Linked DNA regions of Homo sapiens. The protein of the gene in region 2 interacts with the protein of the main gene of each other region in a pairwise test. Each region holds a gene or a part of one and is shown on either strand. Other genes may lie near its edges. The genes, in order: SKAP2 and SRMS.

The links.
Region 1: the proteins of SRMS (region 2) and SKAP2 interact in a protein complementation assay, tested with the Homo sapiens proteins (one study listed by BioGRID).

Annotation. Positions count from the first base shown.
Region 1 is NC_000007.14:26,854,380-26,858,196, forward strand, and holds part of SKAP2 (src kinase-associated phosphoprotein 2), read right to left. Parts: intron 3,345-3,817; exon of another isoform or gene 3,072-3,344; intron 512-3,071; coding exon 406-511; intron 1-405. UniProt on the Homo sapiens protein: May be involved in B-cell and macrophage adhesion processes. In B-cells, may act by coupling the B-cell receptor (BCR) to integrin activation. May play a role in src signaling pathway.
Region 2 is NC_000020.11:63,541,089-63,544,785, forward strand, and holds part of SRMS (tyrosine-protein kinase Srms), read right to left. Parts: intron 3,261-3,697; coding exon 3,139-3,260; intron 2,393-3,138; coding exon 2,226-2,392; intron 1,494-2,225; coding exon 1,352-1,493; intron 1,234-1,351; coding exon 1,075-1,233; intron 533-1,074; coding exon 351-532; intron 260-350; coding exon 103-259; intron 1-102. UniProt on the Homo sapiens protein: Non-receptor tyrosine-protein kinase which phosphorylates DOK1 on tyrosine residues. Also phosphorylates KHDRBS1/SAM68 and VIM on tyrosine residues. Phosphorylation of KHDRBS1 is EGF-dependent. Phosphorylates OTUB1, promoting deubiquitination of RPTOR.

The DNA.
Region 1 (3,817 bases), on a different chromosome or scaffold from region 2:
ATATCTTTAATACTTATGACATGTAAATATATTACATTTATTCATTTAAAGTAGTAACAAAAGAATTCTCTTTCTTCAGTGTCAGGTATTTTCTGTATATTAAAGTCCTCAATCCACCTTTGTCTTATCATTTAAACCAAATATACCCTCAGATAATCAAAATAAACAGCTGAACTCTGCTAGAATGCTCAGAAAAATACATAATCAAGAAGGGTACTATGATAAGCATATCTGTGTTTAAAAACTATATAGTGGAAATATATTTTTTGCCCTTCAAAAATACTTAACATCAGTTAAACTGGAACATGAAAAATTTAACTCCATAATAATCGATTTCTTATTAAAATGTTAGTTACAAAACTGCTTCTATGTAAGAAATCAGTAAACAAAAGGTAAGTGACTTACATAGACTTTACATCTTTTATCTTCTTAATAAGGGATTCTCTCTTTTCCTTTGCTTTCTTGGATAAATTTTCTCCTTTCAGTATATCTGCTACAAATGTTTCAACATCTAAACCATGCAATATAAGAAACAGGATACAAATTATAAGAAATAAAGGTTTTGTGAAGATAAATAGGACAATGATTGTTTCTACATATAAGTGTTAATACCTGTACAATTTGTTATAGTTATTTATCATTCCAAAGCATAACAGTTGAAGTGTGTTTCAAATACTAAGTTGAACAAATCTGATCACCACTTAGCTAATAAAATTTGTAAGTTCTACTTATGCTTACCACAGCAAATACTATTTGGATGTTTGGCATCATTAAACAAGGAAGAAGCACACACCAAGTTTTAATAAACTATGGTGCCCCATAAAACAAATTCTTTATATGGAAGCAAGCACCAAGCTTTTAAGCATGTGTTAATATCATTTTCTAGTATTTTGTAAGTTCCTGTGTGAAAATGTCATTCATATTATTATGTCAATACAAGCTAATGTCTCTGGCAAGGGTCTGTTTTCCCTAGTATAATCAATTTTCAGGTATATCCAACATGTAATGCTTTAAAGGAAAAAGTAAATCCACTTTTCTAGCCAAGATTCCCAAATCAAGCCCTCCTTCTTCCTACCTACACACTCATTCTGACTACCCTCAAATAAAAAAGATAACCAGCTGTGTAGTTTTGTGAGCTCTTGCTTCTTGCCTTGGTATTACCACCTGAAATATTTCTTAAGGAAGAAGTACAAACATAAGTTCTTCCACTATATAAAAATATAGTCACCAAGAAACAAGATTTCTGTGGCTTCATGTAACATTCCCTCATAGCCTCTTTTTTTAATTTTAGTAAACTTCTAAATTACGGTGCTGTCTGGGTCTCTCTAGTGTAAAATTCCAACAAGTCCTTACAGGTTTAATTTTTATACTAGTTCCATTCTTATTATTCATGAAATACTGTGCAATTTTAATTTTATTTTCAGAATTTCACACCTCATTTTGAAATATCTAATATGGAGGATATCATTAAAGATGTTTAAGTAGGCATGGCTATAAATCATTGATTATTTCATATGGAAGGGATTTGTGTTTTACTTTCTTTTTCCTTAACTACTTTGTATAGCATCAAAACAATATTACGTATAAATAGTTCAAAGTAGTATAATAATCTAATAATCTTTCAACTGTACTTACAATTAACCATTTAAAACCTAGTATATGTGATAGAATGTTTGTAATTCTTGATTACAAAAGTATCTTGATCCAATGAGGAAAGCCAATTAAACTTTTATACATTCATAATAAATGTGTACAGGTAATTTTTCACTAAGTCAATATGACAAGTAAAATAATTAAGAATACTGTAATAATTTAAAAAAAATAGCTTATGGTTTGAAGTCTATTAACGACTAATGTGTTAAAAATTTAAGTATCAAAATGAAATGAAAGCAAATGTCACAGCTTCTCTTTCCTTGAGTTATATTAACAACTGATGTATTAAAAAATAAGTATCAAAATGAAATGAAAGCAAATGTCACAGCTTCCCTTTCCTTGAGTTATATTAACAACTAATGTGTTAAAAAAAAGTATGAAAATGAAATGAAAGCAAATGTCACAGCTTCTCTTTCTTTGAGTTATATTTTGATGTGGGGGACATAGAGACATAATCTAGTACCAGTGCAAATTAGACACAGACTTCTAAAGTGAATTCAAAATAACAAAACTTATGAAGAAGCATGTTGCTCTAAAAGCTTTAAATTTTGTGCCCAGAACAGCAAGCAACCTTTGGATATTTCGATATTAGCTGAAATGGAAAAGATCACTGGCTCCCCTGAGATCATTACAGTAACTTTTGCAAGAAAGTGGAATAAGGGAAGAAGCAACATCCCTACTGCTGATTCGTCTTCCAACCAGACTCAATAGGAAGAATCACTGGCCCAATGACTGGGGAATAGTCTGCTTAATGTTATTTTCACTCAATGTTTGCCTTTGATTTCCTCTTCCATGAGTATTTAATTGCCTATTTTATATTTTCATTATACAATCCAAGTTTAAACAAACAATCTATTTTCTATCACTGGAAGTAATAACAATGAATTGCCCCCAAGAGTTTTTTTCTTTAAAAGGTCATTTCAGTTTTATAAAAATTCAGAAAAAAAAAAAAAAGGCTGCAATAAACACTCTACATAGTGCCCTCTAACGCCCCCAAACATGTTTTTAAAATACTGATCCATGTTACTATTTTATGACAAAGTTTTTTTTGAAAGAGTGTGGGACTGTAGGAAGAATCGGTATTTTTCAAGGATGCCAGAAATTCAGAGATTGGGTATGGTCTTTTTTTTTTTTTTTTTAGAGTAGCCTTTTTTAATATACTTATTCCTAAGCTTTTCCCAGAAAAGGTTTAAAGCAACTAAAATTATTTAATAAACAGTGACTTTTTCGTGATTATTTCTCAAAGGTGATGTGGAGAGAGTAGAAACTGCTTTGCTTAAAAAAAAAAAAAAAAAAAAAAAAACTTTAAACTGGAAGCAGTTCCCGAAATAATTTTAGTTTGTTGACTGTCCACAACCAAACTTGGTTGGTTTTTAAGCTTTTGAAATCTAGGTTATTTCTTAAAATCTACACTTTACCCGTTTCTTTTAGAATCGAATGAAACCAGCCTCTTCCAGGCACAGGAGACTCCTAGACGTGCCGGTGGCGTTCGGCCGGTGTCTGAGCAACACACCGATCCTGATCTCGCAACGCAAAGACAGACCAAGCGCCGCAAAGAAGTTGTAGGGCTGCGAGATGCTCCAGCTCTGCCCTCTGAGAAACGCACTTCAGCGTTAAACCCCAGGGTTCCTCTCAGGCGGAGCAGTGAGCATGGAGAGCCGGGTCTGGGGCAGAGCCCTCACTAGACAAATGGGGCTGGATCTGTGGCTTTGTAGCTCAGAGCCAGGGTAATATTTCAAAAGCAAGCAATAAGAGTCTTGGGCGAATCAAGTGTTCCTCTGGCTGGTTGGAGAAGAGATTTGAAGCTTCTTATTGTGCTCTAAATAGCCCTGCAAACGGTAAACTAGCAAGCACAGTAAACTAGCAAGAGCGTTAGCCTTCTTCTACCTTCCTTTGAGGGTCGTGTTCCTCGGTTAATATGTAGATTTCACCATTCCTGAGTGCCCGTAATTCAGGGAAACGCAGTAATTTGATAACAAGAAAAGGTCAGCCTCCCTCGCTCGACCCTTAGCCCGGTTTTTAGAATTCTTCCTCGGAGGCAGGGGCTCAACTCACACTCTCACGCATACTGGCCACGGGAGAGAAGCGTGGGAGGCCCACTCTGCGCCCGCGGGAAAGGGTTTAACTACCAGGTCTAACTACCCCCACCCACCCCCATCTCCTG
Region 2 (3,697 bases):
CCTTGGCCAGACCCTCCAACCCCTTGCCGACAGCGTCCAGGCCCGGGGCCAGTGACTCCTGGGCAGAGCCTGCATCCTCCCTCTGGCTGCCTGGGGACCCACCTTCATAGGGACACTGGCCATAGGTGAAAACCTCGTGCAGCAGGACGCCGAAGGACCAGACGTCTGACTTCTGGGAGAAGACACGATAATTGGCCGCCTCAGGCGCTGTCCACTTGACCGGGATCTTGGAGCTGCTGCTCGGGGAGTAGATGTCGTCCTGGGGGCGAGGGAAGGCCCCTGGTAGGGCAGGTGGACCGGGGTCCCCTCACCCACCCCCTCTGGGTCAGGGGCCCAGAGCCTCCGCTGACCTTGAGCAGCCGGGCCAGGCCGAAGTCAGCCACCTTGCAGGCCAGGCCGTCGTCCACGAGCACGTTCCGGGCGGCCAAGTCCCGGTGCACAACGCGCTGCTCCTCCAGGTAGCTCATGCCCTCAGCCACCTGGCAGGCAAAGCCCAGGAGTGGCGGCAGACGCAGGGCCCGGCCCTCGGGGGCTGCAGGAGACAGCGCGGGGTCTTTTAGGGCACGGGGCCAACGGCCGGTGAGGCCAGCGTCCACCCACGTCACCTTCCCCCATGCCTCAGCCTCCTCATCTCTAAGACGTGGCGAGGATGGCATGGCCGGCTAAGGCCACGGGAAGCCCCAAGTGAGACAGGGCGAGGGTCCTGTACTCACCACAGTGACCCGGCAGCCGGCCCAGGCCCCCGACAAAGACCAGGGCAGAGAAGAGCCAGAGGCTGGGCTGGGTCTATGTCACATTAGACCAAGGCTGGTGACCCAGATGGGACCGCGCCCCCCACCGCCCCCGAACACCAGCTCCAGCCCCGGAGCCACAAGGCTCTGGCCTGGCCCAGACCTGACGCCAGCCCCCTGTTGGCTGGAGACCAGACAGGGATGGGATCTGCAGCCGGGGCCACCTGCTCCCGGTAGAGAGGCCCGGTTCACCTCGGAAACCCCGCAGGTTCAGCTCTGCGCCAGGAGGGAAGGGGCGGTCGCAGGCGCGTCAGGGCCACGTGGCAGCAGGGAGGGGACTCACTGCCCAGGAAGGCCTGCAGGTTCCCCTTGCGCATGAGTTCCGTGACGATGTACACAGGCTCCCCGCCCGAGCACACTGCGTGCAGCCGGATGAGCCGCTCGTGCCGCAGGCCCTTCAGTGTCTGGATCTCCTTGGCGAGGTCAGTGAGCTTCATGTTGGCTGCGAGAGAGGGTGTGGCTCCAGGACCGGCCCACGCCACGAACATCACTGCCCTGGGGCTTGAGGGTTGGACAGCAGGTGCGGGGCCCGGCCGTGGCGCAGGATCTCGGGGCCTCACCTGACTTGATGACCTTGATCGCCACGGGCAGGGAGCCCAGCCACAGGCCTTCCCACACCTCCCCAAAGTAGCCTTCACCCAGCTTCCTCCCAAGGGCGAATTCGGAGTGTGGCCGCTCCCACACGTCCTGCCTCGGGGCCTTCTGCAGGGAGGGTGGGCAGGGAGGCTGGTCAGCGTGGGCCCCTGTGCTCTGTCCCAGGCACAGCCCCCCACACCAGGCCTCTGGCGGGCACCCCTGTCCCCAGCACACACTCACCCCACCCTGGCTGGGACAAAGGGGAGTGGGTGCCAGGCTTGGAGGCCCGGCCCAGCCCCGTGGGAGCTCATTGCTCTGGGGGCCTAAGTGGCACCTTTGCCCCAGCCGGATATCCGTCTACACATGCTCATTACTGCCCCTGGCCGCGCTGTCATTATGAGACCAGAGAAACCAGACTGCTGCCCTGGCCCTCGGCAGGGTGGCTCACATCGGGGACAGTCCCCGGGATCCAGTGTCTCCAGCCCAGGTGCAGCATCTTGTGATCTGCCTCTCCTCCCACACCTTCCGCCCTTGGGGCCTGGGGCAGCCTTGAGTGCCTTCCCCAAACTGGCCCCACCCTCCTGGCTGCTCCCCTGCAGAGCTGGGCACTGCTACAGGTCTCCTTTCCCCACTCCCAGCCCCCTAGGACCCCAGGAATCCCAACAACCCTCAGAGGCACCCGCAGAGAGCAGAATGTGCTGGAACCGCTGGGATGCTCCGATGCTCCCAGGCCTGGGCAGGGCCCTGGAGCTGCGCCTCTGACAGCCCCAGGGGTTTTGTGACGGGGTGGGGAGGAGCACCTAGAACAGGGCCATGCCTCGGGCCCAGCATGGGGCAGCTTGGCAGGCACAGGCCCACCTGGGGCATGCAGGGCTGCAGCAGGGGGTTCTGGATCAGCTTCCAGTTGGCCTTGTAGTAGGTGAGCAGCTCCTCCAGGCCGGGAAAGAGCCGTCCCTTCTGCAGGTAGAGGCTGCCATCAGCTGCCATGGAGACCCGGTAGTGGCAGACCTTGGCCTGGGCCCGGACTAGGAAGGGTTCAGAGATGGAGACCCCTGCCTTGGCTGCCAGCTGCCCCGACCCTCCCACCCCAGAGGATGCTGGCCACAACCCACTAAGGGGTCTGGCTCAGACCTAGCTGGGGACCCTGAGATGGTCAGAGCTGTGTGGAGGAGGGAGTGTGGGCAGCCACAGGCTGGGGCGGGGCAGCGAGAGCGGCCCAGGTTGGAGCTTTTCTGCTGACGGTGTGCACAGAGTAGGCACTTAATAAATACTTGTAGAATGAATGAGTCCATGAGTCAGTGAATGAATGAAGGAATAAGGAAGGAAAGAAGGAAAAGTGAATGAATGAATGAACGAATAAGCAAATGAGTGAAAGAATAAGCTAGTGAACAAATCAGTGAATAAATGAGTGAATTAGTGAGTGACGAATGAACGAGTGAATGAGTGGATGAATGGATGAATGAATGAGTGAATTAGTGAGTGAGGAATGAACGAGTGAATGAGATGAATGGATGAATGAATGAATGAGTGAATTAGTGAGGAATGAATGAACAAGTGAATGAGTGACTGAATGAATGAGTGGGTGAATGACTGAATGAATGAATAAATGGGTGAGTTAGCAAGTGCAGGAGGTGACCAGCATATCTGCTGTTGGGCCCTCAGTGGCGCCGGGTGTGAATCAGGAGCCAGCACTGCCTAGAGACCAACCACCCCAAGGTCAAGGGCCACTGACCTGGTGGGGGACAGAGGCAGGAGGGGCCGCCCCAGGTACCTGACAGTGAGTAGCCCCCGAGGCTGCTCTCGCTGGGCCGGATGAGGAAGGCCCCTGGTTCGTTGGGTGGGGAGAGGAGCAGCTGCTGTGCCTGGGTCCGACTGACCCCGCTAAAGTACCAGCTGCAAACAGCAGGTGCGGCAGTCACCTTGCAGGCCCCTCAGCCAGTGGCCCCACATGCTCTCCTCCGTGTTGCCGGCAGGGCTGAGCCCGGCTGTCCCACCGCCTCAGGGAGAAGGTCCACCCCGTGGACTTTGAGTCCCAGCTCAAGGTCTGCACTGCCTCAGCCCCCAGTGCCGGCCTCATCCTCCTGCTCAGCCCTGAGCATCCTCACGTTGGCCGTGGGCTCTCCGTTAGCCCTGCTGGGCGTGACCTCCAGTTCCCTGTTCATAGTGACCGCCAGCCCCAGCCACAGGTTAACAGTCAGCCCTGGCCATGGGCCATAGGCCTCCAAACTCGGCTTCGCTGAGCCCCTGCACAGACATGGAGCTGACGGCCTGGTGAGCTGCCCGGAAGCACTGCTGGGCTGTCGTGGCTGTACAGGGCCATGGGCATCACC